2 separate regions of the Homo sapiens genome follow, and region 1 is linked to region 2. Evidence: fine-mapped expression QTL. A gene starts in region 2. The other region holds a variant in brackets. All regions are shown on one strand. Distances are between the middles of the regions.

Region 1 (5,332 bases), 70 kb before region 2:
TGTGGTTCATCTTAGGTAGAGCCACGTTTTGATGAAAACCATCTTCCATACCCAACCCTCCCTGGGAGTGGCCTGGTAGGGAGCCCCCAGTCTGATGGGGGCAGGGAGGGCACTGCTCAGAAGGGCCAGGGCCCCAGTGAGGCCTACCTGACTCTTATAGTTGTCAATCATCCCCTCATAGTTCTTCACTGAGGCCTTCAGCTGCTGGACCTCGAGGTGTGCCTGGTTGAGTTTGTCCTCCATTGGAGCAAAGCTGGCCTGGAAGGGATGGCTCATGAGTAACCCACAGGAAGGTTCTGCTTCAGGTGGACCTCCTACCCTCAACTCTATCCAAAGAACCAGAAAAGGAAAGGCCCCCTACTCTAACCCACAGAGCACTTTCCCTGAGAGAAGCACCGAGAAGCAGGTAAGACTCCTAATGTTACCACCTCAAGTGAATAGAGATGCAAATAAATGACTTCTGTTTTTTCTTAATCCAAAAGCAATATATAATCATTAAAGAAAATGGGGATAAAACCAGGCCGGGCGCGGTGGCTCACGCCTATAATCCCAGCACTTTGGGAGGCCGAGGTGGGCGGATCACAAGGTTAGGAGATCAAGACCATCCTGGCTAACACAGTGAAATCCTGTCTCTACTAAAGGTACAAAAAATTAGCCGGGCGTGGTGGCGGGCGCCTGTAGTCCCAGCTACTCGGGAGGCTGAGGCAGGAGGATGGCATGAACCCGAAAGCGGAGCTTGCAGTAAGGTGAGATCGTGCCCCTGCACTCCAGCCTGGGCGACAGAGCAAGACTCCGTCTCAAAAAAAAAAAAAAAAAAGAAAATGGGGATAAAACCAAGACACACTAATCCTAATGCTTAATGACTTGGATATGGCTATATATCTATAGCTGCATAACTTTTTCGTTTCTGTCAAAAAGAATGAGACTATACTATACTTACTGCTATGTAACATAGTTTTTCCCCACCATGGGATCTGCCAGGTTGTATGTAACATACTTTTTATTTGTTTATTTTTTTTTGAGATGGAGTCTCGCTCTGTCACCCAGGCTGGAGTGCAAAGGCACAACCTTGGCTCAATGCAACCTCCACCTCCCAGGTTCAAGCTATTCTCCTGCCTCAGCCTCCAGAGTAGCTGGGATTACAGGGACACACCACCACCCCCACTCCGGCTAATTTTTTATATTTTTGGTAGAGATGGGGTTTTACCATGTTGGCCAGGCTGATCTCAAACTCCAGACCTCAAGTGATCCGCCCACCTCGGCCTCCCAAAGTGCTGGGATTATAGGCGTGAGCCACCACATCTAGCTGTAACACACTTTTAAAATTAACAATATGTTGTGGGCCGGATGTGGTGGCTCACACCTGTAATCCCAGCACTTTGGGAGGCCAAGGTGGGCAGACCACGAGGTCAGGAGTTCGAGACCAGCCTGGCCAATATGGTGAAACCTCATCTCTACTAAAAATACAAAAATCAGCCGGACGTGCTGGCATGTGCCTGTAGTCCCAGCTACTTGGGAGGCTGAGGCAGAAGAATCACTTGAACCTGGGAGGTGGAGGTTGCAGCGAGCTGAGATTGCACCACTGCACTCCAGCCTGGAGGTCTGGAGTTTGAGATCAGCCTGGCCAACATGGTAAAACGCCATCTCTACCAAAAATATATTTAAAAAAAAAAATTATGTTGTGAACTTCTCTCAAGTCAATGAATGTCCTCTCAACTTATAATGCAGGTGGGAAATTTTAAAAATAAATAAATAAATAAATAAATGTCTTCCTATAACCCAATTATTCATCTTAAATGGGACAATATAAATCATGGTGTATCAAATGAATAAAGTAACTAGTAGTCACTTAAAAGAGAGATAAAGCTCAAAAAACCAACCTTAACAGATGTCCGTAAATATAGTTAAATCAGAAAAGCAAGTGACAGAATAATGGATGGATGAGTGGATGTGTGTGTGCTTGATATGTTAGTACTGGGGGATAATCTAGAAAAATATATGTTCATGGCTAGCGAAGATCTTCATGTCTACATCACATTTCTGTAATGTTTTGAATTTTTACTATGAGCATATTTAACTTTTATAATTATACTAGGAAAGGCCAGGCGTGGTGGCTCACACCTATAAACCCAACACTTTGGGAAGCCATGGCAGGTTGATCACCTGAGGTCAGAAGTTCGAGACCAGCCTGGCCAACGTGGTAAAACCCTGTCTCTTACTAAAAATACAAAAAATTAGCGGGGCATGGTGGTGGATGCCTGTAATCCCAGCTACTTGGGAGGCTGAGGCAGGAGAATCACTTGATCCTGGGAGGTGGAAGTTGCAGTGAGCTGAGATCATGCCACTTCACTCCAGCCTGGGCAACAGAGCAAGACTCTGTCTCAAAAAAAAAAAAATTAGACTAGGAAAATATACTTCTACAAACATCATTTTGAATGACCACACTGTAATACACTATACAGATGCACCATACTATAACTAATCCCCTAAATAGTTGTTGGCTTTTAAAATTTTTTTGTAGAGATGGGGTCTTGCTGGGGTTGCCCAGG[C/T]TGGTCTAGAAGTCCTGGCCTCAAGCAGTCCTCTCACATTGAGATTACAGGTGTGAGCCACCATGGCTGGCCTCCTAAATAACTGTTAAGACGTGCATGTTATTTTTAACTTATCCGACAATTACACTATACAAATGAGATACTACTACACTCCCACCGGAGTAGCTAACATAAAATAAGACACTCAATACCAAGCTACCAAGCGTTGCCAAGGAGGCAAGGAGCAACTGTTATCCTTTTACTCACCACTGACAGGTGTGGAGATTTGTTCAACTACTTTACTATTCAGTAACATCTACCAGTAACTACTTTACTACTCAGTGACACACTTTACTATTCAGTGACATCTACCAAATATAGACTTAATGCACACCCCATGATGACCTGGCAATTCTACTTCAAGGTATATAAACAATAAAGACGCACCAAATGTGTACACCTAAAGACATACAAAGATGTTCACAGCAACACTATGGAAACCCAAATGTCCACTGACAGTAGAATGGACAAATATACTGTGGTGTGTTCATATAACGACATACCCTAGAGCGCTGAGGATGAATAAACTCCTCCAAACAATGGGGCTGACTCAACAAACTTGCAGAGTAGACGCCAGGCCCAGGGATATTCAAACTATTCAAATCTCTACAGTTAAAAGCAGGCAACTAATTTGTGGTGACAGGAGATGGGCTAGCAGTTACCTTTACAGGGGTATTAGTAACAAGAAAGGTCACTAGGGTGCAGGCAAGGTTCAATCAGAGTGAGTGATGGACAAAGTATATTCACTTTATGAAAATTCTAGGATCTGTGTACTTTTCCATATGTTATTCTTCCTTAAAATCAATCTTAACAAGAAAAAACAAAATCAGTGAAAAAATAAAGCTAGATGTTATTGCCCAGATCAACAAAAGAGCAAGATAAAACCTGTCTCTGAAATGTCAACCTCTGCTCAGGTGCCTCTCACTCCTGGCAGGCTGGAAGTGGGTATGGTGAGTTTAAGAGCTAGGGCTCGAGTCAGACTCGGGTTCAAATCTCAACTCTGATACTTCCTAGGGCAAAATCTTGGCAAGACACTTGACTTCTCTCTCAGCCTCAGTTTCCTTATTCTCATTTCTTTTCTTTTCTTTTGAGACGGAGTTTCGCTCTGTTGCCCAGGCTGGAGTGCAGTGGCGCAATCTCGGCTCACTGCAACCTCCACTTCCTGGGCTCAAGCAATTCTCCTGCCTCAGCCTCCTGAGTAGCTGGGATTACAGGCACACACCACCATGCCCAGATAATTTTTTTTGTATTTTTAGTACAGACAGGGTTTCGCTATGTTGGCCAGGCTGGTCTTGAACTCCTGACCTCAGGTGATCCGCCTGCCTCAGCCTCCCAAAGTGCTGGGATTACAGACGTGAGCCCGGCCCCTTATTCTCATTTCAAATGGAGATAATCATCATGTTACTGGCAGGTTGGACAGTTTAAGTGAGAATTAATGCCTGTGAAGGGGCCCAGCAGGCCCCCAGGAGAGCCCACATTAACCTCAAATGAGTTCTATCTCATGTGCGCAGGCTGAGTACACCATGTTAAGCATTTCACATGCGTTACCACATTCTCACAAGGACCTCATTTCCTCTACCTAAGGAAGAGGCATGGAATGTTTTTCACTCAGGTCCTACAGCCAGGAAGCAGCAGAGTAAGGACTTGAATCCAGGCTTTCTTTTCTTTTTTGACACAGAGTCTCTCTCTGTTTTCCAGGCTGGAGTGCAGTGGGGCGATCTCGGCTCACCACAGCCTCAACCTCCCAGGCTCAAGCGATTCTCCCAACTCAGCCTCCCGAGTAGCTGGGACTACAGGCGCATGCCTCCACGCCTGGCTACTTTTTGTATGTTTTGCAGACACAGGATTTTGCCATGTTGCCCAGGCTGGTCTCGAACTAGGCTCAAGTGATCCACCTGCCTTGGCCTCCCAAAGTGTTGGGATTACAGGCCTAAGCCACCATGCCTGGTCAAATCCAGGCTTTTCTGACTCCCTCTTAGTCAAGATGCCCCCAGGCCCACGTAAGACAAGACCCCTCATCAGCTCGCTGGGCCCCATCCAGCTGCCTGGTCCCCAGCTCTCACTGCGAACCTTCAGCCTCTCATTCTCCAGCTTGAATGCGGAATACTCAGCAGTCTGACGGTGTAGTCTCTCCACCAGGCTATCCCGGTCTTCCCGCATCTTCTCCTCCAGGGTTTGTTGTTGGTTTACAAGATCTGTTACCCGGCTGGAAGATCACAAAGTGAAAGCAGACAGAGAGAATCAATTACACAGGTTTGTTTGTGTGTGTGTGTGTGTGTGTGTGTGTGTGTTTTGTTTGTTTGTTTTTTTAGACGGAGTCTCGCTCTGTCACCTAGGCTGGAGTGCAGTGGCGCGATCTTGGCTCACTGCAAGCTCCGCCTCCCGTGTTCATGCCATTCTCCTGCCTCAGCCTCCCGAGTAGCTGGGACTACAGGCGCCCACCGCCACGCCCGGCTAAGTTCTTGTATTTTTAGTAGAGACGGGGTTTCACCGTGTTAGCCAGGATGGTCTCGATCTCCTGACCTCGTGATCTGCCCGCCTCGGCCTCCCAAAATGCTGGGATTACAGGTGTGAGCCACCGCACCCGGCCAATTACACAGGTTCTAAAGAACCCAGGTCTTTGTGTGGTGTGGGACCCAGCGTTCTCATCACTCAATATACTGCCTGCCTGCTCCCCAATCTCCACACTGAGAAGCAACTCTGCTGCCCTGCCTTGGCATTGCTGCTGTGGTACTCCCATGCCT
Region 2 (5,369 bases):
TCCCCTCAGATCACCACCTGGGCTCGCCCTCAGGCCTCCAGACCACAGCAGCATAGTCATCGCCCACAGCCGCCAGCCACTCCTGCAGCATCTCTGTGGTGTTGTCCACATTGTGGTCCGTGGCACACCTGGGGACGGGAAGAAAAAAGGCTGAGGGGGCACAGCCACAGGATTGAACCCCAAGGCAGCCTTGACCCCAAAGCACTAACACCTTTGAGGTCGAGCTCTCCTTGGAACAGTGAAGGGTAGGTGTGCTACAGCAGAGAGGCTGGAGGCAGCACAGCCAGGTCCCCACCACAGTTCTGTGACCTGCTGTGTGACCTCAGGCAAGTCCCATCTTTCTCTGGGCTTCACGTCCTCCCTCTATAACTTAAGCTGTCCTGCTTATGTCATGGACAAAGATAAGAGAAGAATAATGCATTTTTTTTGAGATGGAATCTTGCTCTGTCGCCCAGGCTGTAGTGCAGTGGTATGATCTCGACTCACTGCAACCTCCGCCTCCCGGGTTCAAGTGATTCTCCTGCCTCAGCCTCCTGAGTACCTGGGATTACAGGTGTGCACCACCATGCCCGGCTAATTTTTGTTTGTTTAGTAGAGATGGGGTTTCACCATGTTAGCCAGGCTGGTCTTGAACTCCTCACCTCAGGTGATCTGCCCACTTCGGCCTCCCAAAGTGCTGAAATTACAGGCGTGAGCCACCACACCTGGCCAACGAATGCATTTTGAAAGATGAAAAGTACCTCGACTTTAAGGATCACACCTGGTGCATTCCCTGGTTACCTTCGTTAGGTGGGCAGATACCTACCTATGTGACCTGTGGCTGTGTGACCACAGGCCAGCCCCTGTCCCTCTCTGAATGGGGACTAGACAGAAGAGCTGCTGCTTTCCTCCACCCCCAGGTTGTAATAAGGACCAAACCATGCTCTAAGCGTCCCTAAGAATGCAGATGGGTCCAAGCTCTGCTGTCATGGGGCACAGCCTCCCCTCTCCTGGGGAAGGGGCCCCCATAACAGAGGTGGGGGTTTAGCCAAGTGCCCAGGTTTTGGGTGATGCTGCCCCTTTAAGCCAATTCCCCAGAAATGAAGACTACGTGTCAAGTCTTACAGGGGTGGGAACTAACAAACTCCCAAACTGTGGTAATTGTGGGCGGCCTCCCCAGGCCAGGGCTCCACCCCCCCAGCCCAACTGTGGTGTGTTGAAGAGGGTGGCTTGTCATTTTTCTCAGTTTACCCCCAACCTCAGCCAGGGACTCCTCCCTGTTCTGGTGTCTACAGACCAGGGGTTGTGGCCTTCGATCCCAGTGCCCTGGGGGTACAGAGATGCCAGAGGGGAGAGGCTCCAGGAAGGGGGACTGCCCTTGGCTGACAGGATCCCGCCCCTCTACCAAGATCTACCAAGAGAGCTGGCCCCAGCACGGGGGCGGTGGGGGGGCCGGTCTGACTCCCCTGCACAGCCCGGAGCCCAGTGCTGATGGCACCCCCAACCTGTGCCCGGAAGCCTCCAGCGTGGTCGATCCCTGCCACGTTGGGCCCCAGTGGACTTCAGAGGTTCCTGTCTGCTCCTCTTCAAATCCAGCCAACCACAGGTCCCACTGGGGTTGAGCTGGGCCCTGAAGGCTGGGGTGAAAAGGGCTGGCTGGGCCCAACCTACACCCAGGGAAGGCCCCAAGAGGAAGGAGTAGGGGACCAGAAGGAGGGGTGGGTGTCCCGCGTCGGCCTGTGGCCTCAGAGGTCTGTCGTCTCCCAGCAGGGGGCTCGGGGTCCTCTCTGGCGGCTCGGGCTGGCAGGGCCGTCTGTGAGGGGAGGGGCCTGTCTAGGTGGTGTCTGGGCAGGGAGCGAGCAGACAGGGCCGCCGGGGGCGGGGGCCATCTGCGAAGCTGGGGGTTAGGTGCCCACTCGGTGCCAATGCCCGGGTCTCTCACCAGAGGGCCATCCTGGCCCGGGGGTAGTCCAGCCGCTCCAGAGCGCCCAGGTAGTGGGGCAGCGAGTGTTCGGCATTGCGGGCCAGGATGGCAAGGACCACGGCGGGCAGCGGCGACTCCGCAACGCCCGCAGCCTCCAGCCACGGCCCCAGCAGGAGCAGCAGCTGGAGCAGCGGCGCGGCGCGGGCAGCGCGCATGGCGGGCGCTTGGGCGGCTGCAGCGGCCCCCGGAGCTCTCGGGCCGGCCGAGGGGAGGGGGCGGGGCCTGGGGCCCGGGCGGGGCCGAGGCAGACCCGGAGAGGGCGGGGCAGTGCACCCTCAGAGTGGGATCCTGCTCCCCACCCCTGTGCGTGGATGCTCAAGTTTTCTCTCCTTGGCCCGGGGCACCGGAGGGCCAGGGCCCGGGGACCCGCGCCAGCCGCGACCCTGGAGCAGCCCCGCCCGGCTGGACCCCGGAGGGGCGACGGCGGAGGGGCCGGAGGACCGGACAGGGGAGGGGTGCTAGGACGAGTGCGTCGGGGCCGGCCGGGCGTCCGAGAACAGTAGGGGCTCATGGAACCCCTGGGCGTTGAACCCCCGGAATCCGGATTCCCCGGCCCACGCAGCCGACTCTTCGACCTGAGCCGCAGACCCAGAGGGGCGGCGCCCACTCGGCCACCACCTCCCGGGCTTCCCCGGCTCCCGCCCCATCCTCCGCCCCGGGCGCCCTCTGGCGGCCCTGGCGCTAGCTCCGCAGACCAGCCGGGCCACGCGTGGGCCGGAGACCCAGCGTGGGGGGCGCAGAGGGAGTCCCCCTGAGCTGGGCGCGTCCTCCCGCGGCGGTCCGCTCCTTAAGTCCCCTGTGCGTCACCTCCTTGCGTCGGTCGCCAGCACCCGCATTGCTTCGGCCCTTTAAGAGAGCACAGCCAGGCCGGGCGTGGTAGCTCACGCCTGTAATCCCGGCACTTTGGGAGACCGAGGCGGGAGGATCACCTGAGATCAGTTCAAGACCAGCCTGGCCAAGATGGTGAAATCCCATCTGTACTAAAAATACAAAAATTAGCCGGGCGTCGTGGCGGGTGCCTGTACTCCCAGCTACTTGGGAGGCTGAGGCAGGAGAATCGCTTGAACCCGGGAGGCGGAGGTTGCAGTGAGCCGAGATCGCGCCACTGCACTACAGCCTGGATGACAGACCGAGACTCCGTCTCAAAAAGAAAAAAAAAAAAAGAGCACAGCCCTCACAGCCCTCTCTTGGTCTGAGTGTAGAACTAGGGGACACCACGGAGCTGCTCACTGCGACCCGACCCGTCCGTCCTCCAAAGCAGGGGATGTTGGCTCCCCTGGAGCACCGCCGGGGTCCTTAGGACCCTGCTGGGAGGGAAAGAACTCTGCAGCCTCTCGGGAGAGGAGCAGAAAAGGGAGCGGCCTGGCGGCACCACAGATGGGATCGAACTGGGTGTCTGTCACCAACCTCAGACAGGTCCCTTTCCCTCAGGAGCCTCTCGGGTAAAATCGGGCTGATAACGCCACCCATCTGGGAGGGTTTGCAGGGATTCCTCGAGAGAATGAATGCACTGGCAGCTTTTCCCGCGTGGAGGCTTACACACAGGAAGAGCTCCGCCCTGGGGCTGGGAAGACAGGACTGGAGGAGAGGGAGGCTCCCCCTTCACCCTCCCACCGCTGGGAAGATCTCCTTTCCTAGGAACAGCACGGGGTCTCCCTTCAGCCTTTTCCCAGGGTCAGGGAGGGGAGCCAGGGCTGTGCACACTATCTCCACTGCAAGGGGAGGGCTGAAGGTCCATAGAGGAAGGAACTTACCTAGTGCAGGGGCAGCACGTGCGCACTGAACCCTGGAGTCCTGATCTCTAGCCTAGCTCAAAGCCTCCACCAGGATCGGGTGGCAGCTTCCATTTGAGGCCATTTCTAGGCCAGCGGCCCTGCAATGAGAAGCATTCTGGAGAGATGCCAGATTTCTTCTCCCTTGCACGGTAGTCCCCTGCGGGAAGCCACTCCCAGCCCCAGAAGAGGGATTCCCTTTCTAAAGCAAAGCAGTGTTCCCTACTTCACCCACCCCAGAGTCATTCCACAGCCTCTGCCTGTCCTATTGGTCCAAGGGTGCTATGGTCAGAATGTCCGTGACCCTCAAAACTCACATGTTGAAAACCTAATGTTAATGTCAGGGTATTAAGAAGCGGGGCCGGCACGGCGCGGTGGCTCGCGCTTGTAATCCCAGCACTTTGGGAGGCGGAGGCGGGCGGATCACGAGGTCAGGAGATCAAGACCATCCTGGCTAACACGGCGAAACCCTGTCTCTACTAAAAAATAGAAAAAAATAGCCGGGCGTGGTGGCGGGCGCCTGTAGTCCCAGCTACTCAGGAGGCTGAGGCAGGAGAATGGCGTGAACCCAGGAGGCGGAGCTTGTAGCGAGCCGAGATCGCGCCACTGCACTCCAGCCTGGGCGACGGAGCGAGACTTCTGTCTCAAAAAAAAAAAAACAAAAAACAAAAAACAAAAAAAAAAACAGGCGGGGCCTTTGGGAGTTGATTGGGTGGGCTGCCCCACCTGAATGCGGCTAGTGCCCTTATAAAAGAGGCCTGGGGGCCGGATGCGGTGGCTCACGCCTGTAATCCCAACACTTTGGGAGGCTGAGGGGGGTGGATCATGAGGTCAAGAGATCAAGACCATCCTGGCCAACATAGTGAAACCCCATCTTTACTAAAAATACAAAAATCAGCTGGGTGTGGTGTCGCGTGCCTGTAGTCCCAGCTACTCAGGAGGCTGAGGCAAGAGAATCGCTTGAACCCAGGAGGCAGAGGTTGCAGTGAGCCAAGATCATGCCACTGTACTCTAGCCTGGCAACAGAGCGAGACTCCGTCTCAAAAAGAAAAAAGAGGCCTGGGGAGCTTGTCAACCCCTTCTGCCACATGAAGACACAGCTAGAAGGCCCCAGGTATGAGGAACGGGCCCTTACCAGACACCAAATCTGCTGACGCCTTGACCTTGGACCTCCCAACCCCCCAGAACTATTAGCAATAAATTTCTTTTTTTTTTTTGGCCAGGGGTTGGGGGGTGGTTCAAGCAATTCTCCTGCTTCAGTCTCCTGAGTAGCTGGGATTACAGCCACACACCACTATGCTTGGCTAATTTTTTGTATTTTTAGTAGAGATGGGTTTTCACTACGTTGGTCAGGCTGGTCTCGAATTCCTGACCTCAGGTGATCCAGCTGCCTCAGCCTCCCAAAATGCTGGGATTACAGGTGTGAGCCACTGCACCCGGCTGATAAATTTCTGTTGTTTATACATTATGCAGTCTAAGATATGTTGTTATAGCAGCCCAAACGGACTAAGACAGGGGGCTTCCTGATTCTTCCCTGGCCTCAAGTCCTCCTCTTCCCCCAAGTCCTCCCACCCTCCCCAGGAGTCCAGCCTGTTACTAACTTTCTTGCCTCAGAGTTTTCCCATCACACCTGC

The links. PIP is the estimated chance that this variant, and not a neighbour inherited with it, causes the effect.
Region 1: its variant is the best candidate, but not a certain one, in a credible set for the expression of CERCAM in whole blood (INTERVAL, PIP 0.57).

What each region holds. Positions count from the first base shown.
Region 1 is chr9:128,487,352-128,492,683 of GRCh38, reverse strand. ODF2 (outer dense fiber of sperm tails 2) reads right to left here. Exons shown (of 21, transcript NM_001351578.2): 14 at 4,659-4,794; 15 at 148-258. LOC124902281 (a long non-coding RNA gene) reads left to right here and starts at 4,287. Exons shown (of 2, transcript XR_007061803.1): 1 at 4,287-4,841. The variant C/T (reference allele first, on the strand shown) is at 2,550.
Region 2 is chr9:128,417,627-128,422,995 of GRCh38, reverse strand. It overlaps CERCAM (cerebral endothelial cell adhesion molecule), which reads right to left and starts at 2,139. Exons shown (of 13, transcript NM_016174.5): 1 at 1,922-2,139; 2 at 18-128. The coding sequence starts at 2,118. RefSeq lists an enhancer at 1,404-1,593 and a silencer at 1,854-2,753.